Linked DNA regions of Homo sapiens. The protein of the gene in region 2 purifies or fractionates together with the protein of the main gene of each other region. This does not show direct contact. Each region holds a gene or a part of one and is shown on either strand. Other genes may lie near its edges.

Region 1 (3,500 bases), on a different chromosome or scaffold from region 2:
TATGTTAATTATAACTGTATATAATTAACATGTTACTTCATTAGGTGGTTATATACAGATCTGTATTTCCTAACCTGCAAACTTCCAGAAGGTTTCAGATATATTTTGGAATTTATTTGGACTTTAGAGAGGGTATATAATTTATGTACTGTGTAATAAGAAAAAACTTTAACTTGATCTGGGTTAGTATCCCTGATCAAATACATGTAAAATATATGAATGTTTAAGTTGTATCAAAAAAAAGACCATAAGTCAGTGTAGATCAGATTTTGCTATCCACTGTATGATTTATGAAAGAACTCTTAGTTTTCAGATCTTTTTGGATACAGAAATTGCAGATAAGGGATTGTGGACCTGTAGTTGATGTTTAAGAAAAATAAGACTAAGTTCCATTTTTCAGTAAAAGTTGTCAAATGATTTGAGTCAGAACAGCAGATATGTTTGAATGTGCGAAGTTCAATTAAGTAGCTTTTTATTTTATAGTAAAATATCTGGAAATATATTTGTATGCAATTTCTTTACCAGGTGGATGGATGATGGCCTAGTAAATGATATCACGCCAAAATTGATAGGAGACAGACCTAATACATACATATACACAAAAGCATTGGCAGAATATGTTGTACAACAAGAAGGAGCAAAACTAAATGTGGCAATTGTAAGGCCATCGATTGTTGGTGCCAGTTGGAAAGAACCTTTTCCAGTAAGTTGTTAGAAACCTTTATAAATAACTGGAGTTGAGAATTTTAAGTTGTAACTCTGTATAAAAAGAGCTGGCAGTTCTTTAAGAACAGGTATTATTTACTAAAGGTGAATTACCATGGCAAAGCTGTTTTGTGTTCATAGAGTTAATTTTATTGGTACTTTCATTTCTATAATGTGACGCTGGGTATATAGAAATGTAGATCAACATTTAAAAAATCCTAAGTGAAAATTAAAAGCTGTGACATTTTCTTAAGTCAGAGGAGATTTGGTTTGTTTCTTAGTAGCAAAAAGAGGCAGACCTTCCAGGAGGTAGACCCCTTCCTCTGTAGATCACAAAGTAAAAAAGGTACAGGGTGTTAGGGTATTTGTGAATTCCTGGAATGAGAGAAAGCAGAAATATAAACCAGTTGGGTCAATTGATTTAGGCAAAACCTAGGTCTGTGTAATGGTAGTAAGTGATAGCATCTGTTGTTGCTTTGACAATTATTCTATTTTTCTCTGTTTTATTCATAATTTTGAGGAGGATTTACCATTTTCCCTAATCTCAGGCTATTGAATTAGTAAATAGCATAAAATCAAACTTGAACAAGCTTAATTTTGTAAAAATATTCAACAATATAAACCCTCTTTTATAAATTTCTCTTTGCAGAGAGTTAATGGAAGAGTAGTAGGTAGCCCTTTGAAAATGATTTTACTCAATTATTTTTGATCCCAGAGGAAGACTGCTTCTGTTTGGGACTGGTAGAAATAGTCTGGCCTGAATCTAGTCTGTTTTTTAGTTTTTAGAAGACAGCTACCAAGTATATATTTGGGGTTGTAGAGTTCAAATAATAAATCTCTAGCTTCATAATGTTTCTAAGCTTCTCTCCCTTTTAAAATTTTTGGTATTAGGGATGGATTGATAACTTTAATGGACCAAGTGGTCTCTTTATTGCGGTAAGTAAACCTTTTGATTTATTTAATATTCTATACATTTTTCTGCTTTTTGTATATCTTTAAATATATATACACTATGGCTTATATATCTTAAGGTGTTGTTTTTAATTTCAACAAAGGCAGGGAAAGGAATTCTTCGAACAATACGTGCCTCCAACAATGCCCTTGCAGATCTTGTTCCTGTAGATGTAGTTGTCAACATGAGTCTTGCGGCAGCCTGGTATTCCGGAGTTAATAGGTATATGAGGTGACAATGTCGCTTATTAAATATATAGTAACTGAAAAGGGAAGACATAGCTTTTGAGTAATGTTAATTAATCCCTCTATCCAGATATTGCCATACCAATATTTAGGCTGTATCACTGCCAACTCCAAGAGTTGGTATTATCACAGACAATAGCAAGTGCTCCCATCAGTAGTAATGAAGAATTAATGTTAATGCTCATGTATTACTTACAGGATAGACAAGTTCACTTAAAAATGAAAAAAAAAAAAATACCCTCCCCTAAGCATGATTTTTTAATCCAAACTAAAACTTGTTGAATATATAAAGAGCTGAAATTCACAGAATATGGTTTACATATATTAAACATGGTACACCAGAGCAGCTTTAATCAGCCCATGAACATCTTTCCTTTAAAAAATAATAGTAGCATTTACAGGTAACACTTAAACTTTAAACTTCCCAATAACTTTTTTTTTCTAGGTAGTAAACTACCCTTATTTTTGATAATCAGTATTTTCTGTCCTAAAAAAAGAGAGATAGGATTATATGAATATGTTGTTTCTGGCAAAAGGAAACTTAGTCCATAATTTTTTTTCAGCTAGATCCTCTGAAAATGAGACAAGAAGAGCTGAGGTCATTTGTTGTTTTCCTCGTGTTTAAAAATAGACATTCCTGCTAATATAAGGAGGAAAAATGTGAAAGAAAAAAGTCTGTATTTTTTAAAATAAGTTATTATTTTTGGTAGGGGAAGAAGAAAGGGTAGTTGTAAATAGTCATTAAAGTAAAAACTAATCCTTTAAGGATAATTAAAAAAAAATAGTATAGAAAAGGTGCCCATCATCCTCATGTCTTCTTGAATACTATGTAGGACTTAGATTGGATATGTTTGGCCTCTTATTATGATTAATTGGTTTCATCTTTGTCTTTGCAGACCAAGAAACATCATGGTGTATAATTGTACAACAGGCAGCACTAATCCTTTCCACTGGGGTGAAGTTGGTATGATTTTACCTGTGTTTTTGAATGTTAGAATAAATCTTAAAGAACCAAGTTCCCTGAAGTTTTAATGTTAGAATACCTATGAGGCATTAAGGCCACTGAGTTACCAATTTGTTCTTAATTGTCGTCTTAGAAGTATTATCTACCAATACTACCTTGTGGTCCTTAATAATGTTTCACAAATTTAAAAATATACTGCTGTCTATTCTTACCCACCCACCCTACCCTTGTCTAAGCCTTGCTGTTTTTCTCCTGCCATCTGCAGTAGCCCTCGTAGATACCTATGGCATGGGAACAGTGCTTTTTTTCTCCCTTGTGAGCACCCTCAGTCTTGATGTTGCCTATCCATAGGCAGTATCACTTCTTACAAGAGGTGGTATATCAAGTGGTACCCAGAGTAATAAATGAAGGAGTTAGGAAGTAGGATACAGTTTGCCAGAATATTTTCTATTAACCTGTATTAATCTATTTAAATTCACAGATTCACAGCAGATATACATGTTCCTAGTTCTATAGGAATAGCATAACTTAAATAGGAATAGTTAAAACCCATTGAAATTGAGTCAATTTTAAATTGTTGGTTGATGAGTTCAAATTTAAAGTAAAATTTTTTTGGCATTGATTTAGTGATAGG
Region 2 (3,500 bases):
TTCTTCTGCCTCATCCTCCCTTTCGACACTCAGGCTGCCCTGCTCGGGCCACTCTTAAGCACAGAAACTTTACATGGGTCCACCACATCCATAAAGAAGACCACACACCTACACGGGTGTCTGTTCTGCACGTATTTTGCAACCTTCTCTTCCCCACATCTACCAGGGCCTCTTTGAGGCACTAACTTACACCTTAAGTAGCTGGCAGTTTGACTGACTTTAAACAAAGAGGCCTTTCTTGTAAGTGAGGCCAAGTCCTCCACCAGAATACAGTCCATTATGTTTGGGAAACGTTTGGTTATATTTACATGGTGTTTGGCAGGTCACAATCTCTTTAAGTGTGTGCTGTGTTCTTATGCTGGGTGACAAATTTCCAAGCCTCCCTTGGTTTCTCTTCCCTGGCGTGTGTTGAGTTGCTTTTTGGTGGTATTTCAAGAAATCCAATCTGCATTGATCCACTTCACATGAGTGAGGTACGAATCATTTGCTTTTAAAGCTGTAGTTGAGGAAAAGGCTATAAATAAACCAGAACCAACAAAGTTGAGAGAAATGGGCAGGTTAGATGTTGTCATACTTTGCCTTTTTCCCCTTTAGCTCAGGCAGAGGTAAAAATAAGGAATGTATGCAAATAGGTCAGGTACCCTGCAACCCTGTTAGCAATTTTGGAACAAAGGCAGGAATGGAGAAGTTGGCAGTGGTTTTCACCTCTCACATGTGCATGAGGGAATTCACACTGAGTGCTCTCAGCCCCCCGCATCGGCTCCCTGCAGACGCAGGAGGTGGGCCTTTTGCTCACCTTTAGCCAAGGACACAGACAGTTAGCTAGGCATGAGTTACCAAGGGATGATTGCATTGCCATCTGCTGTAACAGTTTTACAATGTTAATATATTGTTTGCAACAACTAGATGGAGGTCAAGTCTTTCTTGATGATTTTGTCACTCCTGACCTTGGCTAAATTTTAATTGCTGACCTTAGAGGAGAAAGTGCTGCTATTCCATTTTAATCCAAATTATGGCCTTCAGCTCCCTTCTTGCTACTCTCATTTATTTTTACTCAATAGATTTTACTCAGTTTTTATGACGCAACTCAACATTACATCCTTCATGTTTCATAAAACAAGTTAGAAATCACATACAACAAAATGTATAATGTTTAGTATTAGCCCATAGTATGTCTTCTGATAGTATCGGCATATATATGTGACTAATATGGAAACTCATCTGTCCCTTAGCATTGTAAACAGGAAGTAGAATGAAGATAATTTTAAAATACTTCATAAATTTTATTTAAAAGTTTAACTTAGTCTAATGTTAATTCGCCAATTAGTAGTTCAGAACTTGGGATGCATTTTCCTATTAAAGATGGTTACAGATTATGGTGATGTCTCCAGACTAACCCATGAAAGTCTACTCAGCCTTTGATAGCACCACTGTATGGGCTATAAATTCCCCCCCCAGCCCCTAAAAACGGAGAGAAAAATACAAAATTGAGCACATTGTTTTAAAATTTTTGTGCGTCGAATATTAATTAAATTTGACTTTTCTTTCGGAACTAGAGAGTGATAAGGAGATATAGAGGGTGTTTCCGGCTTTGAAGAGGACTTTCAGGACATTCGCCCGTTCTGTTCATTTCTGTTGCGAGATTAACATATGCTTGTAGGGAAGGACAATTTAAGAGGACAGAAAGGTAAAAATCAGCCTCATCTTCAAACTGTTGTCCCACTCCTTAAAGATAAACATGGCTAAAAGTTTCCTTCTGGAAATGTTCCGTGTGAGAGTGGCCGGTCTGAATATATTCCAGAGCCAGATAGACCTCCGTCTTAGCATGGTGTCAGAGGATTGAAAGTAAACAGTAATCCTAACCTTCGCCAGAAAACATGAACAATGGTTCCATCATAATACACAGAATGTTTTTTTAAAGCCCTGCTTCCCCCATTCCTTTTATTCTGCTTTCCCAGTTACTCTCAACTCTCTTCCCTTCAGAACTGTTCACGTGGGCTCTTCCACTTTCTCCTGCACTTCTGCGTTTTTCCTGCTTGTCTTGCTGGGGGAAAGACTCATTTCCAATAGGTCTTTTAAATATGCCTGCTGAGGTGGTGTATGGAGGAGTGGGGATTAGAGAAAAGGAAGGGAAGCCAAGCCAAAGGTCCTCCTTAGTGTGCGGGAAAAAGAGAGAGAGAGAGAGAAAAGGATAACTCCCTAGCCCATGTTCTGTAACTTTTTTCACTTTACAAGAGAGTGTAGACATCTGTCTAGATTAGCTCCAGATTAGCTACCTTATTCTTTTTAACAGATACATAGTATTTCATCTCATGGATATGCCATAATTTTTAGATCAATCTCTGTCGTTTCCATTTATGTGTACTGTGTCAAACAGTGCCATGATTAATTGAATCCATAGGGTAAATCCACATGAGAAATTCCTAAGTGGTAACTTGGTACATCAAAAGTTAGGTCCCCCTGCTCTTAAAGTGAAAGTTATATTTATTTTAAATTTGGATAACCATTTCCAAATTGTACCTCCCCCACCACACACACTAAAATGTCACTCTTTCCTCAAGAAAATATGAGAAGAGATGACGTTGACTTCCGTTGTTTCTGATCTAAAGCCATTTCAAAACGTATTAGGGCCTTCATCTCTTCTTTCATCAAAGCCCACATTATAGGGTAAGATTTGTTGATATTAATTTTGTTGTCCATAAATAGTATTTTTGTGCTGGTGGGAATGACACTTTTGTGACGTACCTGGGAAAAAGGCAGAAGAACAAGAATGATGAAGAGACTTAAGTTGTGATCAGAGAAAGAGGCAAGGGAGGTGGGCTATGAAATCTCCATCAAGGAGAAGAAAGCTGATAAGAGTGAGATTTCAGCTCAGATAGTTTTCTGTGCTTTGTTGTCAGAAAAAATGGGGGCAGGTGGAGAGAGTGGAAGTATAATGCAGCTGGTAGTTTGTGTACCTGCCATGGTTACAAATCAGGGGTTTGTAACTGAGAGATTGTCAGTTAATTACATAGCAGCCCCATTCGTTTTTAATTTTGCGGGGGATTTTTTTTTTCTCCTTTTTTTGAGAAGGTTTGGAAGATAGGTTGATAAACTATGAGATTTCCTCATAACAGTACCTTCTACTGTTTTCAAGCAGGCTTTTCTGAAGAACTCCAGTTGTTCTTTCATGGGTTTTTGTCAGTGTGACATTCTGGTACAGGAGTCTGCAGAGCTTGCCGGGTACATGTTATAGTGGGAAGACCTGAGCGCACGTTTGGTGCAGCCACGCGCCCAGCGCTTGCTTTGGGCCTGCCTTCCTGACCCCGCATCCCAGGTGCGTATTACAGTGGGAGGACCTGAGCGCGCGTTCGATGCCGTCACATACCCAGCGCTTGCTTTGGGTCTGCCTCTCCCAATCCCGCATCTCTCCTTGTTGCTCAGATGTTGTTAGCTTGCTCTCTGAGGACGCTTGTGTCATTGTCTCTGACAACGAAGCTCATTCCTAGAGGGCAGGCTGG
Region 3 (3,500 bases), on a different chromosome or scaffold from region 2:
CTGAGTAGCTGGGACTACAGGCGTCTGCCACCACGCCCGGCTAATTTTTTGTATTTTTAGTAGAGACGGGGTTTCACCATGTTAGCCAGGATGGTCTCAATCTCCTGACCTCGTGATCCGCTGGCCTCGGCCTCCCAAAGTGCTGGGATTCAGAAAAACTCTTTTTTTTTTTTGGAGACAAGAGTTTCGCTTTTGTTGCCCAGGCTGGAGTACAATGGTGTGATCTCGGCTCACCGCAACCTCCGCCTCCCGGGTTCAAGTGATTCTCCTGTCTCAGCCTCCCGAGTAGCTGGGATTACAGGTGCGTGCCACCACGCCCGGCTAATTTTTGTATTTTTAGTAGAGATGGGGTTTCATCATATTGGTCAGGCTGGTCTCGAACTCCTGACCTCAAGTGATCTGCCTGCCTCGGCCTCCCAAAGTGCTGGGATTACAGGCGTGAGCCACTGCACCTGGCCAGAAAAACTCATTTCTACATTTCCCATAGGTTGTTTAAATTGTTATTATTAAAGGAAAGCTCATCTCAAAGCTTCCTCAACAACAAAGCCTTTTATCTTCCACCCCACCTCCCACGCATTCACTGCCCAAATATACCAAGTTTCTCTTTTCTTTTTTCTTTTTTTTTTTTTTTTTGAGATGGAGTTTTGGTCTTGTTGCCCAAGCTGGAGTGCAATGGCACAATCTCGGTTCACCACAACCTCCACCTCCCAGGTTCAAGTGATTCTCCTGCCTCAGCCTCTCGAGTAGCTAGGATTACAGGCATGCACCACCACGCCTGGCTAATTTTGTATTTTTAGTAGAGATGGGTTTTCTCCATGTTAGTCAGGCTGGTCTCGAACTCCTGACCTCAGGTGATCTGCCCGCCTTGGCTTCCCAAAGTGCTGAGGTTACAGGCGTGAGCCACCACGCCCGGCTCTCTTCTTTTTGTTTTTTGTTTTTGTTTTGAGATGGAGTCTCGCTCTGCCGCCCAGGCTGGAGTGCAGTGGCGTGATCTCAGCTCACTGTAACCTCTGCCTCCCGGGTTCAAGGGATTCTCCTGCCTCAGCCTCCTGAGTAGCTGCGATTACAGGTGCCACCACGCCCAGTTAATTTTTGTATTTTTAGTAGAGATGGGGTTTCATCATACTGGCCAGGCTGGTCTTAAACTCTTGACCTTGTGCTCTGCCTGCCTCAGCCTCCCAAAGTGCTGGGATTACAGATGTGAGCCACCATGCCTGGCCTCTCTCTTCTTTTATCTGTAGTAACTTTTTACATGCCTTATGGTATCTAACCATAAGGCAGTGTGTTAGAATATAATATTTTGTATTAATTTTATTTTAAAAATATTTTATATTGATAATGGTTACATATATATTCATATAGTTTCTATGTGTCTAAATTTGGGTTGTATATGTAAGATTTTTGCACTTTATATAGTTATACCTCCAGTTTTTTAAAAATATAAATCTTAAGTCGTGTGTGGTAGCACACCCTAGAGTCCCAGCTATGGGACTACTGAGGTGTGAGGATCACTTGAGGCCAGGAGTTAGTGGCTGCAGTGCACCATGGTTGTCTTATGCATAATCACTGCACTACAGCCTAGGTAACATAGTGAGACTCCCATCTCTAAAGACAGAAAGAAGTTAAATAAATAAATAAATCTTACCTTCCATGTTAGGCTAAGTCCAAGAGATAAGTCACTGTATTTTACCTAACTTTATCTTTTCTATTGAATTGTGTTCTGTATTGCACATGGTGGGCAATCCATATGTGTATGAATTAACCTAAATGTACTTGTGGATTAAGTTGTGTTAAGTTTATGAAGCAAAATATAATAGCCATAGTGGGAAGTCATTCTAACCATACCTTGAGGATGTTAACATTTGCTGCGAGGCATATTTTTGGTTTATATAAGTCATGGTTATTGACATAGCATCTATCTGAGTAGATATTAAGCAAGGTTAGATATTTTTTCTTCCTTTTTATGTACTCTAGGTACACAGATATATCTGAAAACAAAGGGATATATATTTGGCTGCTTCTAAGACAATTGAGTCTTGATTTATTATGTTTGTCTTTTTTTTTTTAAGATGGAGTCTCATTGTGTTGCCCAGGCCGGAGCACTATCTTGGCTCACTGCAACCTCCGCCTCCCGGGTTCAAGCGATTCTCCTGCCTCAGCCTCCTGAGTAGCTGGGATTACAGGCGCGTGCCACCACGCCCGGCTAATTTTTGTCTTTTGTTTTTGTTTTTTTGAGACGGAGTCTCCCTCTGTTGCCCAGGATGGAGTGCATTGGCGCGATCTTGGCTCCCTGCAACCCCCACCTCCCAGGTTCAAGCGATTCTCCTGCCCCAGCCTCCTGAGTAGCTGGGATTACAGGGGAGTGCTACCACGCCCGGCTAATTTTTGTATTTTTAGTAGAGACGGGGTTTCACCATGTTGTTCAGGCTGGTCTCGAACTCCTGACCTTGTGATCTGCCCACCTTGGTCTCCCAAAGTGCTGGGATTACAGGCGTGAGCCACCGCGCCCAGCCAATTTTTGTATTTTTGGTAGAGATGGGGTTTCGCCATGCTGGTCTCAAACTCCTGACCTCAGGTGGTCCACCCGCCTTGGCCTCCCAAGTGCTAGGATTACAGGCGTGAGACACCGCGCCCAGCCCCAGTCAATTTTTTATCAGGATTGTACTATAGGAATAGTAAGTCTTCTCACTAGAAAATATACCTTGGAGATTGGTCGAAATAAATATTATATTTTAATGTTCCTAAGTAAACATAGGGATCGTTTGTTTCATCAGGATTGTTCTATAGGAATAGTAAGTCTTCTCACTAGAAAATATACCTTGGAGATTGGTCAAAATAAATACTTTTAAAATGCTTAATTATTATTTATCTTTGATGTTGAACATAAAAAGCAGAATTGTTTTCTCCTTTGATGAAGAAACAGTTTCTAGGAATAAAGGAAACTTTAGAACCGATGTCCCTTTTTGTACATCACTTTTTGAGTATTTACTGAATGTAATGTTTGTGTCTTGTAGAATGGAGATGTATGCATTTCGATTCTTCATCCGCCTGTAGATGACCCACAGAGTGGAGAACTGCCTTCTGAAAGGTGGAATCCTACTCAGAATGTGAGGTAAGGAGGAATCTGGTTTTGGAGTTATTCTTAATCTCCTTATTGTCTTTGCTCCTAGTAAAATAAAATTATGTATTGTCTTTTAACATGTAAAAAATCATCTTTCTTATATTCAGTTTCTTTGTCTTTAGCTAGAGCTTTAAGAAATATGTATGCGTCATTTTGAAGAGCTGTATTTACTAAACAATAATGTATATGATTCTCATTTCCCTATGTTCACTTAGGAATAGATTTTCAAGCCTGAATCCCTACTCTTAACTTATCCTAGTTCTACTCTGGTTCTTTATTACCACCTAACATTAGTGTCATTCATTGGTTGCAGTTAATAAACAATGTTAATTCATTATAAGTAACTGAAGTCCATACGCTTTCACATTTCCTTTGTTTT
Region 4 (4,086 bases), about 140 Mb from region 2:
GTGGGCTCAGGAGAAGGGGGCCTCCCCACTGGATAAGGGGTTGAGGGCACTGTTGGTGCCATCTCCTGCCTTGAGTCCTCGAGCTCTGGGTCAAACAGAACTTTAGGTGCTGGCTTCTCTTGGCCGGTGGAGCGAGAACTTTCCTGAAATAAATGTCCCTTTGCTACTACTACTGCTGCTGCCTGTCCTTTTACCACTGTAGAGGATCTAAAACTAGCTGTAACTAGGAATCTCTATATGGAAATTGATATGGGTGCAGGCACACCATGAGCGATCAGGCCAAGCTTCCGCTCAGGTGGAGTGGGGCAAGTTGAAAAGACTTGTCTTACTAAGTTTCAGATGTCTGGACTCCAAGTGCCAGTTCCTTCCTGGTGTTCAGCCACTGTGTTAATCCTCCGCGGGGATCACTGCTCTGGCGAGGCGTTCAACCGGGGCCATTTCCTACCTGGGAGCGCTCTTTGGATCCCATCCCTCAGGCTGGCCAGAGTCCCTGGCAGCCTGAGGGATGCCCCGGCCTTACTCCACAAGGCATGCCTAATCTGCCTAAGGAGCTGCCTCGGCCGTCCATCAGTTATCTTGCTTCCAGGTCAGGGAACCAAGAAATGTAGCAGGACAAGCGGCAGACAAAACTCTCAGACACCGAGTTGTAGAAGGAAGGGTGTTATTCACCTGGGAGCATCGGATAGCTACTGTCTCAAAATCCGAGCTCCCCAAGTGCACAATTTCTGTCCCTTTTAAGGGCACACAACACTAAAGATGTCACATGAAAGGGTCGTGATTGATTTGAACAAGCCAGGGATATGCGACAAGGACTACATGCACCCGTGGTCAGGGAGAAACAGAATATGGAAGGGAGTTTCACAATGTTCTTCTATACAATGTCTGGAATCTATGAATAACATCGGCTTCTAAATCATAAGTTGATTTGTAACTACTGGGTTTAGGCCAACCAGGCCCAGGCCTGGTTTTGTGCCTTTGATTTTGCTTCCTTGTTGTTTTTACTGAATAGAAAACAATATAAAACAAGAGGACAGGGTCTTTCTCTCTTCTCAATATCAGCACTGGATTGTAGAACTTGTTGCTGATTTTGGCCTGGCATTCAAGTTAACTCTTCCCCTTGGTATCTGTACATACCTTTGATGTCAGTGTTTAGTACACGTGGCTTGGTCACTTCATGGCTAAAAACGTGCTTGTGGAAGACAAGTCTGGCTTGGTGAGTCTGTGTGGTCAGCAGTCTCTGATCCGTGCAGGGTATTAATGTGTCAGGGCTGAGTGTTCTGAGATTTATCTAGAGGCTGGGAAGGGCTCCTGAACCAGTTGTTTCCGTCTTGTCGGTCTGTCAGGGTTGGAAAGTCCAAGCCATAGGACCCAGTTTCCTTTCTTAGCTTACGTTATCTACCAGAGCACCGTGGGCTGTTACTTGCCTTGAGTTGGAAGCGGTTCGCATTTATACCGGTAAATGTATTCATCCTTTTAATTTATGTAAAGTTTTTTAGTATGCAATTCTCGATCTTTTAAGAGTTGACAACAAATTTTGGTTTTCTGCTGTTATGTGAGAACATTAGGCCACAGCAACATGTCATTGTGTAAGGAAAAATAAAAGTGCTACCATATGCAAAAAAAAAAAAAAAAGAAAAGAAAAGAAACATTAATGTCTAAGAGGTCATTGAGATGATTTCCATGAGAGACTTTTTGATGTTCTTCACCAGTTAGGATTATTATTGATAATCCTTTTCAGATTATGAATAAACAGTTTGCCCTCAAGTATTTATTCATGCTACTATTTACATTGTAAAATGTGCTTCTTACAGGAATATAAATAGTTTCTGGAAAGGACACTGACAACTTCAAAGCAAAATGAAGCTCTTTTGGTTGCTTTTCACCATTGGGTTCTGCTGGGCTCAGTATTCCTCAAATACACAACAAGGACGAACATCTATTGTTCATCTGTTTGAATGGCGATGGGTTGATATTGCTCTTGAATGTGAGCGATATTTAGCTCCCAAGGGATTTGGAGGGGTTCAGGTGGGTATGATTCATAGTATCAATTGCAGAATTCACTGTGCTTGTAGTAAACACTATTCTGATCTTCTACGTGAAGCTTGGGCAACATTTTACTTCACAGGTAAGTATTCTAAGTAAAAGAATTTTCTGAGGAAAAAACAATGTAGTATTCTTTGCAACTGTATATTTTGTTTCTGATATAATCTTTCTTCAACAAGAGCCCTCCGATGTGCTGTTAATATTTTCAAGAGATAGCTGCCTATACCAAGATTCAAGAATCTTTTGTATTATTGATTAGATTCTAGAACATTCAATGATATACAGTAAGACAGAATTTGGTACTTATGAAGACTGTTTAATTTGTAGGTCTCTCCACCAAATGAAAATGTTGCCATTCACAACCCTTTCAGACCTTGGTGGGAAAGATACCAACCAGTTAGCTATAAATTATGCACAAGATCTGGAAATGAAGATGAATTTAGAAACATGGTGACTAGATGCAACAATGTTGGGGTAAGTGAATTCTAGTTTCCTTTAAAAATAACAGATAGGAAAATGATTTCTGTCTCTTCTTTCTTGCTCCTTTTGAGCAGAAAGTTTTCCATATCAGTTTTAATTTTACTTCATACTTTAAAACTCAAAAGTAACTGTCACCTTATGTTCAATTTTTGAAAATATTTGTATATGTGCTCTCTACTAAAGAGATAAGTTAAAGTTTATAGCAGAGTTTACTTCTGAAGCAAAACATCAAATTTTAACCGCTATAACTATCCATATTTCCTGGAAGGATTTTCTGGTGAGGAATTTTAATTCCAGTTACAATATTTGCTCTCATTTTTAGATGACTTGTGTCTCCATTCCTAATTCTTGGGTTTTTTTTGTGGTGAATAGGTAGCTTATCTATTTAATGAGGAGCAGAATTTGAGATGAATAGCTACCTTATTTGTCTTCCAAGCTTAGTAGAGAGTACAGGCTTTCTCCTGGTGACCCACTGAAATTTCCCAAATAGTAACCTTTTCAGTCTCATCTGAGTTGTGTCTCCCCAAAATGGGCTTTTTGCCTTTCCTCCTATTTATGGTAGTTTCCGGTTCTCTCAGTTTATCATTCCTATATATATTTGGCCAAGTGTCTGGAATGAATGTAGGTGTTTAGTTCACATTACTTTCCTTTCACAGTTGATTTTTGATCTTGTAGGAAAATAGTTATAAGGTATGAAATATTTTGGAATTTTATTAGCACACTATAAATTTAATCAATAATTCTTTAAATTTCTGCCTCTCTGTAAGTCACACTGAATTAGAAACTTTGTTTTCTAGGTTCGTATTTATGTGGATGCTGTAATTAATCATATGTGTGGTAATGCTGTGAGTGCAGGAACAAGCAGTACCTGTGGAAGTTACTTCAACCCTGGAAGTAGGGACTTTCCAGCAGTCCCATATTCTGGATGGGATTTTAATGATGGTAAATGTAAAACTGGAAGTGGAGATATCGAGAACTATAATGATGCTACTCAGGTAATTTTTTTACGAGAGTGATCTGAATAAGGAGTGATATATGCCTTTTGTTGTAGACATGTAGCTAATTGAACTTCGTTGTAAATATGAATTTAGATCTCTTAGGGACAGAGGTTAACAAGTTTGACTACTTTAAGAAACTCAAATCCATATTTGAAAACCTTTAAATATTGATTTAAGATTTTTAATCAATACACATTTGTCCACTTTTAAAAAGCTCCCAACCAATTGAAAAACTCATCGACTTTATTTCCTAAGTTCTCTATTTTCTATTAGAAAATATTTCCAAGATACATCTATAGTAGAATGTGAGCATCCCCAGTGTCCAATGCAAGGAAGTCACCATAGAATATCTCTTGAGGAATCATGGAATAAATGAATAATCAAATGGATTCTCAGGCGAAAAGTGAGGTTTTATTAATCAATCATAACATTCTTACCTCAACAGGTCAGAGATTGTCGTCTGTCTGGTCTTCTCGATCTTGCACTGGGGAAGGATTATGTGCGTTCTAAGATTGCCGAATATATGAACCATCTCATTGACATTGGTGTTGCAGGGTTCAGAATT
Region 5 (2,429 bases), on a different chromosome or scaffold from region 2:
CTAAGGAACCCGGAGCTCAGAGAGGAGACGCCTCTGAGCATGGCTCCCAGCTGGTAAGGGCCTCAGCCCAACTCTCCTGATTTTCAGGCCAGGGGCCACCCTCTCCCCGTCCCTGGAGGACTTGCCAACGCACAGGCGCGCATGCACACCAACAAAGGGTCAGGACTTGAGGAGGATGCCTGGAGCACGCTTCTCCTGGCTGACTGTTTCTTCCTCTCCAGTCGTTTCCTCTGGTGGGCCTCTCCAGGGCTCCGCCGGGGTGTGGCCAAGACCCTCGAGGTGGGGTGTGCTCAGAGCAGGGGGCCTGAAGAATGGCTCCTCTGTTTACAACACACCCAACAGGAAGCTGGGGTCATCGTGATGAGGGGCACAAACTTGTGGCCTCCCTACAGACAAATGCCCTACATGTGGACCCCCTGCACCTCCGCATGGCTTCCGGGGAGGACCAATGGCAAAAGGCTTTGAAGGCCTCACTTTTGCAGGCAGAAGTCCTGGGAGTGGGTTTGGGAATGAGTGAAGGGCTGGAGGGGCAGGACAGTCCTCTTCCAGGAGCTGAGCTGCGGCATCGGGTTGAGGAGGGGCCCCCTGGAACCCATCCGTTCAGCAACAGGTCTGCTTGGCTAGCAGCAAAGTTTACTTTCCTCTCATGCCAAGGTACCTGGAATACAAGAAGATCCCCAACAGCAACCCACCTGAGTATGAATTCCTCTGGGGCCTGCGAGCCCGCCATGAGACCAGCAAGATGAGGGTCCTGAGATTCATCGCCCAGGTAAGGGAGCGCCTCTGTTGGGTGCCCGGCACCGGGGGTGGTGCTCTCCACACCTTGCTTGTTTCTTGGTCGAGGCCTCCTTCCCATTACCCCGTATTCCAGTGAGGGTACCAAACACTCACAGAGGCACCTGAGCACCCTACACAAGGTCACAGATGGGGCAAAATCCCAGGTCTGGCACAGGAGAGTAGGAGCCCCCAATCCCTGTGGTCCTGATTTTTGCCATCATTGCACAAAGCACACGGGAGGGGGTGAGGCGGGCCGCGGGTGCTCAGCCAGTGTGGGGTAGCTCTGTGTCTATGCCTGCCCTTTTCCTCCTCAGAATCAGAACCGAGACCCCCGGGAATGGAAGGCTCATTTCTTGGAGGCTGTGGATGATGCTTTCAAGACAATGGATGTGGATATGGCCGAGGAACATGCCAGGGCCCAGATGAGGGCCCAGATGAATATCGGGGATGAAGCGCTGATTGGACGGTGGAGCTGGGATGACATACAAGTCGAGCTCCTGACCTGGGATGAGGACGGAGATTTTGGCGATGCCTGGGCCAGGATCCCCTTTGCTTTCTGGGCCAGATACCATCAGTACATTCTGAATAGCAACCGTGCCAACAGGAGGGCCACGTGGAGAGCTGGCGTCAGCAGTGGCACCAATGGAGGGGCCAGCACCAGCGTCCTAGATGGCCCCAGCACCAGCTCCACCATCCGGACCAGAAATGCTGCCAGAGCTGGCGCCAGCTTCTTCTCCTGGATCCAGTAAGAGTTTCGGTAGAGAAATGAGACTCTGCAGGAGGGCTGCGGAGGGGGGTGAGATGTCAGAGGGAGGGCCAGGGTGGGGGCGCTGGGGGCAACGGCAACAGCATGGACGGACACTTATTTTGTTACGTACACCCCTCCCTGGTTCGCGTGTGTCCACGGATGTTGTCACTTTGGTTTCTTGTGCTTTTATAGGCACCGTTGACGAACTGCAGCGATCTTACTGGCCAAGCCAGAGCGCCTCCTCTCAGATTCCTTCTCGACACAGCACCCTAGGCGGCTTCTTCCTGTCAGTCGGAGGTGGCATGCAAGATGAAGCTCTCTTTGCTCTTCCTGCTTTCATTTTGTGCTTTTCCTTGTGTTTTCATGTTTTGGGTATCAGTGTTACATTAAAGTTGCAAAATTAATTTGGATGTTTCTTCCTTTACCTGCACACCCATTGCTATACCTGGCCACGCTTGGGCTTGTAGCAAGGAAACTTCTTCAGGCTCTCTGGGGTAGGTGGGCCCCACCTCTGCCAAAAAGGCCCACAGGGACAGGTGGGATGCTGGGAGGTGCGGAGGTTGGTTACGCCTGAGTGCGTGAGCAGGAGTTTGGAGAGGCCCCAGTGCTCATCGTTATGTGATTTTCTACAAACCTTGCTCAGCAGCCCCAGGGACATGGCAAGAGTCGGGGCCACAGCAGGGGCGGGGTGGAAAATTGCAGCTTGGTGCCACTGCCCCTCCCGCCGAGGGACAGGGTCCAAGGCTCTCACCAGGACCCACCTCCCACACCCCCTCCTTGGAGATGATGTTCCGGAACCCTTGGCTCATCATCCACACAGTTCAGGACCCCGTCCTCGGTACAGAGTCTGACGGACAATGAGGTGGGCCCCGCAGTGATGTTCGCAGCCCTCCAGTGGGTAGAA
Region 6 (3,500 bases), on a different chromosome or scaffold from region 2:
GATCATCTTACCTGAGCATGGCTATGCAGAGGAAGTAGACACTCAGCCCAAATTGTTTCTCTGACCTGAGGAAGATGTGGGCAATGGATTTGGAGTGGCAGTTTATATACCCCCTGGAAGTGGTGCTGCAAGAAGCTGTCCCCAGCCACATTGCCAAGATAACCTATTAGAAACTGGGGGTAAAGGAAAAGTGCCAACTTGTTATTGTCAGATGACTTCTCTTTTGGTTGACGAGCCAGTTTCTTACTTACAGCATCTTTTGGAGTACTGCTAGTTGGTGACTTACATTGGCAGCAGATGCTGGGACACTTTGTCTAGCCTCCCCAGCATCTGTTTCACCCTCCTTTCTTGTGCCTCTTCCCCATGGTAGATGGAACAGTGGACTAAGGTTTAGGGAATTTTGACCATTTAAGTCTGTTTTCTTAATCTGTCTAACAGAGTTATAATAAAGGTTAATGAGATCATATATATGAAAGCACTCGAGTTAAGAAAAATAGTATTGATTTGATTCACAGAGGAGCTGTCTTTGCTCCTAGAAAGACCTGTCCATTCGAGACCAGCCTGACCCAACATGGAGAAACCTCATCTCTACTAAAAATACAAAACTAGCCGGGCGTGGTGGTGCATGCCTGTAATCCCAGCTACTCGGGAGGCTGAGACAGGAGAATCACTTGAACTCCAGAGGCGGAGGTTGCAGTGAGCCGAGATGGCACCATTGCACTCCAGCCTGGGCAACAAGGGCGAAACTCCATCTCAAAAAAAAAACCTGTCCACAGAAAAATGTTAAGTATAATCTACAGTTAAATACATGCATGGCTGTGAACAGGGTTCAATGTGAAAAAGATATATTTGAGTGTGTATCGTTCCCTTGGTTTGCACAAGTATCCGCAGGGTTGTGATTCACAGGCTTTGGAGACATTGAGTATGTGCACAGTTCATCCACGTGCTCAGGATTTTTCAATAGATATGACTTGGGTGGGAGAGGGAAAGGCATGGATAAGTGACCCAATGAAAGAGATGTAATATGAGAGTTGTGCATTTTTGTCTAATAAGCATTTTCATTTTGTTTATTTTCTTTTTAGCCCCAACAGTACTTACCGATGTTGATCCTAAAACCAAGGTGATGCAAGAAGAAATTTTTGGACCAATTCTTCCAATAGTGCCTGTGAAAAATGTAGATGAGGCCATAAATTTCATAAATGAACGTGAAAAGCCTCTGGCTCTTTATGTATTTTCGCATAACCATAAGGTAAGCTTTAGAGAGAACAGCTAGTTAGCATAAGCAACTGTCAAGAGTCATGTTCCTTCTTTGCTGTAAAACAATGCAAAAAACAATGTGAAACAATGATGGTTTCTTTTGTGTCATGTCAGAGTCCATCCACTAAGTGAGGTTGTGTTCCGAGGTTGCTGTCTTGGTTAATGAGACTCTGGGGTTATCACAGCATCCATTCCCCTCCTCCCTCGGGTTAGATCTGAGTCTGCAGGGTTGAGTGTCACAAGGTTTTTGATTCACAAACATCTCCTGTATAATTGGAAGACTTATATGTGCCAGCATTAAATGCTTTTCTGATGTTAATCCACAGGGCATTGCTGAATAACAGCCTGCACAAAATGGCATTCACACCCACTGTGTGGGACAAAGACCCCGACACTGTCACATAAATGGTTGTGATATGATGGATTTTAGTTTCTAACATGACGCTAGCTTCTTGTTAGAGTGGTGGAACTGCATCACCTGGTTGAGCAGTTCTGCCACTTTCTGCATGGCTCACTCATTCATGTCACTAGGTGACCAGCCGCTACTAAGAGACCATGGCCCAAATGTTTTCTGGAGAGCTTCTGATGGTAATGTATAGATAGTCATGTGACAGCTTTTGGAGCTTGTGAGACTATTGAGATACAGATAGCTACAGGTATTTGAAGTGAGACCAAATGTGTGGGGCTCAGTAAAGACTGGGTTATTAACAAAACAATGGTTTGACATTTAAAACCATGGATAATGTGGGCAGGAAGGAACCCTGAAGCCGAAAGTAGGCTGGCCAGGGTATAAGTCAGGTGTGGAGCACTTCCCAGCAGTGGGTCACCCGAGGTCACTATAGTCCAGACTTGACGTTTGCCATGAACAATTGTCAAGGGCTTGCTGGCACCCAAGGGTAAATGACGTTTACTAGTCAAGTGTTCTTGTGCTTTTCTGAGCCTTAGGCCAAACAACCATTTATTTCTTAAAAAATAGGATGCTAAATCTAAAGTCTTAAATATTTTTACATTTCATAAAGACTAAATAATACCTATTAATCATGTGTTATAATTTAAAGCAGAGATAAGAAAGAAATAATAACAGTTTTTAAAGCTGGAATATAGTCTAAGCTGTCCCCTTTTAAAGAGTCTTTTGCTGCTGTGTTGGGGAGTACAACTCCAGGTTGTGGCTGAGTAGGCCCAGAGGTTTGGAGCTGCCTCCTTTTGTGCACTAGATGTGTGTCTGAGAAGTTGGGTATCAGTCACTTTGCTAAATTAACCAGTTGAGATTGTTTGTCTATCTGGCATGGTGTCCCCAAACTCGAGAATTTTCACTGACACAAAGCCAGAATGTGCATGCTTTGAGCACATAACTGAGCACACAGCCCTCTGTGTGGTGGGGCCATGAGTGTTCCCTAAGGGGCAACTTCACTGACCTGGACACCTTTGGTCTGTCCTCAGCTCATCAAACGGATGATTGATGAGACATCCAGTGGAGGTGTCACAGGCAATGACGTCATTATGCACTTCACGCTCAACTCTTTCCCATTTGGAGGAGTGGGTGAGTCTTATTTTCTCCTGCTTGTAGTAGATATTTCAAAAGCACCACCATTTCATGAGTGGATTGTATGGGCTGCTGAAATAGCCAGCTGTTGCGTACCCTGATTGTCCTCTCCTGAGGGAGACCTTTTCCTGGTCACCCAGTTGACTGGTTTTCCTGCTTCCCCACCCACCCCTCCAGCATAGGGCAAATGTCTTGTCACTCTCTTTCTGTCAGCAGCACTGACTGACCACAGCTTTGTTCACTTCGTTGATTTTGTTATCCTGCCACATTTAGGAGATTTGGGAACCAAGAATCAGGTCTCAAATTAATTAAGAAGATCTCTCTTCGTGTGTGTGTGTGTGTGTGTGTGTGTGTGTGTGGTGTGTGTGTTTAATGAAGTAGCAAATGAAAGGTTCGGAATACCAGGGACAGAAGGTAGAGGGGTTTTCTAATGTGCCTTTGTTTTCTGCTCAGTTCTTACCTGCATTGTTCCCCAGCCCTTTGTTGGGAGGAGCAGCCTCTCCTTGAATTGTTTTGTGATTTGAGTAAAACGGGACTCCCCCTGTTCTAGAGAGGATGGGCAGAAAGAAATTCATTCCAAGTGAAGCTTTGTGGACATAGCCTGATCCTTGCTTTTCCCTTTAGAACATGACCTGCCTGCCTCTCCCACATGTGAGATGACTGACTCAGCTTTTTATTTCTCCTTTGGGACCTAGGCTAG
Region 7 (2,852 bases), on a different chromosome or scaffold from region 2:
GGAATGGCTGGGGAAGGAGCAAATGGGAGTGGCCGAGAGCTGGCAGGTGCAGGCCACCAGGGCCACATGGCCCCTTCCTGTCAGCAGATCCCACCAATGAGGAGCAGAGCACAGGGTCCCTCTCGGGTCCAAAGCTCCTGACTCTGAGCCAGGCTGAGGGTCTCACTGGCTGTGGGACCTTGGCTGTCACACCTCAGCCTCCCCTCTGTAAAGTGGGCTTGATAGCAGTACCCCAGGGTGAAATGCAGCCAGGGCACAGGCCCGGGCTCTGTGAGGCTCAAGAGCCTTGGGGAACTGTCATTGTCCCTGTGTAAGCATTTCCAGAAGGTGCTCCCTGGTGAGGCTGTGTGGGCAGAGAAGCAGGGAGGCCTGGCTCCCCAGAAGCAGGTCAGCTGTCAGGCAGGTGGCCAGGACTCAGCCAGAAGCTTCTGCAGCAAACTGGATACCGCCTCAGAGGCCAGGTCCTCCACGGCAAAGTACTCCAGCTCAGGGCCAGGGCCTCCACAGCAGAGTACTGCCGGCAAGGGGCTCGGACAGCGCGTCTACTCCCTCGCGGTCCCGGAGGCTGGAGTCCAAGATCTCGGTGCCACAGGGCTGGTTTATCCCGAGACCTCTCTCCTGCCTGGCAGACGCCAGCTTCTCGCTGTGTCTGTGTCTTCATCTCTTCTTCATATAAGGACACCAGTCCCATGGGACCAGGGCCCACCCTAATGGTCTCCATTTAAATAAATACCTCTTTAAGGACCCCATCTCCAAATACAGTCTTATCTAAGGTGCAAGGGGTTAGGACTCCAACATATGAAGGTGGCAGAGGCATGACTCAGCCATAACCACAGGGGTGGGAGGGAGGATGTAAAAGGCTGACTCCCCAATCCCTGACCCTCCTCTGCCCTGAATGTGCCCAGGGAATCCCAGTATAGCCATGGTGCTGTGGGGCCCTCCCACTAACAAGCTTTCCACCCCCACCCGCTCTGTTGCCCCTGGAGGGCCATCCCATCTCCACCTCGGCCCTGTGTCCAGCACCTGGTCAAGTACCCAGGGCACTGTCCTGGCTTGTGGGAGGGGGACTTGCTGGCATTGGCACAGCCCCCACGATCTGTCGCCTGTCCTTGCAGGCACCTCTCGGCCATGCTGAGCTCCACGGCACGGGCAGCACAGGCACCGACCCCAGGCCTCCTGCAGAGCCCCCGATCCTGGTTCCTGCTCTGCGTGTTCCTGGCGTGTCAGCTGTTCATTAACCACATCCTCAAATAGGAGCCCTGAGGGCAGAGCTCCTGGCCGGTCCTGAGCCCTCCCTCCCAGGCACCCAGCACTTTAAGCCTGCTCCATGGAGGCAGAGAGGCCCGGCAAGCACAGCCACTGTGACGGGGAGTCCAGGCGCAGGAGGGACCCGGGGCCACAAGGCGCTGCGGGCCCAGGTGTGCTGGGCCCCTCTCAGGGGCACTGGCCTCTCTGCAGGGCCTTCCGCCCAGCGCTGGCCTTAATGCTAAAGCCAAATGCAGCTTCTGCTGTGCGACGCACTCCTGGCCATCTTGCCGTGTCACCCCCTGTCCGGCCTCCACTTGCCATGGGGGATGGATGGATTTAGGGTGGGAGGGCCTGTGGGGGCCCTGGACAGTCACACCCCAGCAGCAGTGAGTGGGCAGGTTTGGAGGAGCCCCGAGTGGCCCAGGAGTCCCCCCACACACAGATGCATAGGCCTGCCTTCCGGAGACCCTGTCCACATTGCCGGGACCACCCTGGTGGGGCCACTGGTGGGTGCCAGGGACAGGTTAGGGCCACTCTGGGGAAGGCATTTTGGTTTTTTATTCCACGCTGTGCTGTTTGGATGGGAGCCCCACAGAGGCAGGTCCTGGAACCACCCCACCCCCACACCTGGACGCTCGCTCTGGTGGGGGCACACGCAGGTGGAGGTGGTTGTGGGTGCAGGTGTGTGCAGGGGTGTGGGGGGCGCAGGGGTGTGGCTTAGCTGGCCCCGCACCCAGGCCGGGGAGGCTCAAGTTCGCCACTTTACTCAGACCGATGCACAGTCTTCCCATTTTACACTTTTTTAATAAACATAATTGCAATATTTTAGGTGGGCTGCGAGCTGCAGTCAGCCTTCACGTCTGGCCTCAGTCCCCGTGTCAGTGCCGCTCTGCGTGTGCGTGTGCGCGTGTGTGAGCCTCTACACATATATATACGTACAGAGCCTTAAACCACATCGTGGCGGTGCCGTCTGAGCTGTAGCGGGTGGCTTTGTTTCCAGTTTTTGTACCCGTGTCCTTGTCTCCCCTCCTCCCCCATCTGGGGATGTGTCTGTGTTCCACACCTTGAAATAAACAGACACATACGTGTTCTCTTCTTGCGGGACTTCTGGAAACGAGAGGAGGGCTTCCCAGGAAGACTCAAGGCCAGCATGGAGCTGTGTGGGGCTGGGTGGAGGGGCCCGGGAGGGAGGAGGGTGCAGAGTTCACAGGGAGCTGTGGGCAGCCTGCCCGCCCTGTGGAGCAAATGCTGGGAGGCTGGCGTCCCATCACCCAATGAGCCAGTGGGGGACACAGAGTGACACTGCCCACAGGCACTCCAGGCACCTCAGAGGCTGCTGGGGGGCATTGGCACAGCCCCTGAGGCCAATGCTGCCAGTTACTGAAGGGGACCCCCCCTGGCTGGACCACCTGGCCCGCTGCCCCTTGCTTCGGTTCCACTGTGGCCACCACCCCTGGTACTCAGACACCAAGGCCAGTGAGTGGGCCTGCTCAGGGTGCCCCTGAAGGCGGGGTGGGGGCACCTGACCACAGGCCTCAAGTGACAGCAGAGGGAGACTGCAGCCCACCCCTCACAGCAACCAGAGGACAAGGGTGATGAAAGGG

The links.
Region 1: the proteins of SMYD3 (region 2) and FAR1 purify together in Homo sapiens (co-immunoprecipitation; one large-scale study listed by IntAct). This does not show direct contact.
Region 3: the proteins of SMYD3 (region 2) and UBE2R2 purify together in Homo sapiens (affinity purification with western blotting, with the first as the bait; one study listed by BioGRID). This does not show direct contact.
Region 4: the proteins of SMYD3 (region 2) and AMY1A purify together in Homo sapiens (affinity purification with mass spectrometry, with the first as the bait; one large-scale study listed by BioGRID). This does not show direct contact.
Region 5: the proteins of SMYD3 (region 2) and MAGED4B purify together in Homo sapiens (affinity purification with mass spectrometry, with the first as the bait; one large-scale study listed by BioGRID). This does not show direct contact.
Region 6: the proteins of SMYD3 (region 2) and ALDH3A2 purify together in Homo sapiens (affinity purification with mass spectrometry; one large-scale study listed by BioGRID and IntAct). This does not show direct contact.
Region 7: the proteins of SMYD3 (region 2) and OSBPL5 purify together in Homo sapiens (co-immunoprecipitation; one large-scale study listed by IntAct). This does not show direct contact.

Annotation. Positions count from the first base shown.
Region 1 is NC_000011.10:13,710,168-13,713,667, forward strand, and holds part of FAR1 (fatty acyl-CoA reductase 1), read left to right. Parts: intron 1-525; coding exon 526-703; intron 704-1,596; coding exon 1,597-1,641; intron 1,642-1,760; coding exon 1,761-1,879; coding exon of another isoform or gene 1,880-1,888; intron 1,889-2,798; coding exon 2,799-2,866; intron 2,867-3,500. UniProt on the Homo sapiens protein: Catalyzes the reduction of saturated and unsaturated C16 or C18 fatty acyl-CoA to fatty alcohols. It plays an essential role in the production of ether lipids/plasmalogens which synthesis requires fatty alcohols.
Region 2 is NC_000001.11:245,853,280-245,856,779, reverse strand, and holds part of SMYD3 (histone-lysine N-methyltransferase SMYD3), read left to right. Parts: intron 1-3,500. UniProt on the Homo sapiens protein: Histone methyltransferase. Specifically methylates 'Lys-4' of histone H3, inducing di- and tri-methylation, but not monomethylation. Also methylates 'Lys-5' of histone H4.
Region 3 is NC_000009.12:33,897,160-33,900,659, forward strand, and holds part of UBE2R2 (ubiquitin-conjugating enzyme E2 R2), read left to right. Parts: intron 1-3,014; coding exon 3,015-3,112; intron 3,113-3,500. UniProt on the Homo sapiens protein: E2 ubiquitin-conjugating enzyme that accepts ubiquitin from an E1 ubiquitin-activating protein, and catalyzes its covalent attachment to other proteins by an E3 ubiquitin-protein ligase complex.
Region 4 is NC_000001.11:103,654,474-103,658,559, forward strand, and holds the start of AMY1A (alpha-amylase 1A precursor), read left to right. Parts: upstream 1-1,286; 5' UTR 1,287-1,455; intron 1,456-1,811; 5' UTR 1,812-1,857; coding exon 1,858-2,025; intron 2,026-2,370; coding exon 2,371-2,517; intron 2,518-3,320; coding exon 3,321-3,518; intron 3,519-3,966; coding exon 3,967-4,086. UniProt on the Homo sapiens protein: Calcium-binding enzyme that initiates starch digestion in the oral cavity.
Region 5 is NC_000023.11:52,061,327-52,063,755, reverse strand, and holds the end of MAGED4B (melanoma-associated antigen D4), read left to right. Parts: intron 1-5; coding exon of another isoform or gene 6-53; intron 54-282; exon of another isoform or gene 283-409; intron 410-654; coding exon 655-769; intron 770-1,091; coding exon 1,092-1,522; coding exon of another isoform or gene 1,523-1,526; exon of another isoform or gene 1,527-1,534; intron 1,535-1,717; coding exon 1,718-1,727; 3' UTR 1,728-1,929; downstream 1,930-2,429. UniProt on the Homo sapiens protein: May enhance ubiquitin ligase activity of RING-type zinc finger-containing E3 ubiquitin-protein ligases. Proposed to act through recruitment and/or stabilization of the Ubl-conjugating enzyme (E2) at the E3:substrate complex.
Region 6 is NC_000017.11:19,662,251-19,665,750, forward strand, and holds part of ALDH3A2 (aldehyde dehydrogenase family 3 member A2), read left to right. Parts: intron 1-1,082; coding exon 1,083-1,249; intron 1,250-2,697; coding exon 2,698-2,797; intron 2,798-3,500.
Region 7 is NC_000011.10:3,086,607-3,089,458, reverse strand, and holds the end of OSBPL5 (oxysterol-binding protein-related protein 5), read left to right. Parts: intron 1-1,115; coding exon 1,116-1,254; 3' UTR 1,255-2,352; downstream 2,353-2,852. UniProt on the Homo sapiens protein: Lipid transporter involved in lipid countertransport between the endoplasmic reticulum and the plasma membrane: specifically exchanges phosphatidylserine with phosphatidylinositol 4-phosphate (PI4P), delivering phosphatidylserine to the plasma membrane in exchange for PI4P, which is degraded by the SAC1/SACM1L phosphatase in the endoplasmic reticulum.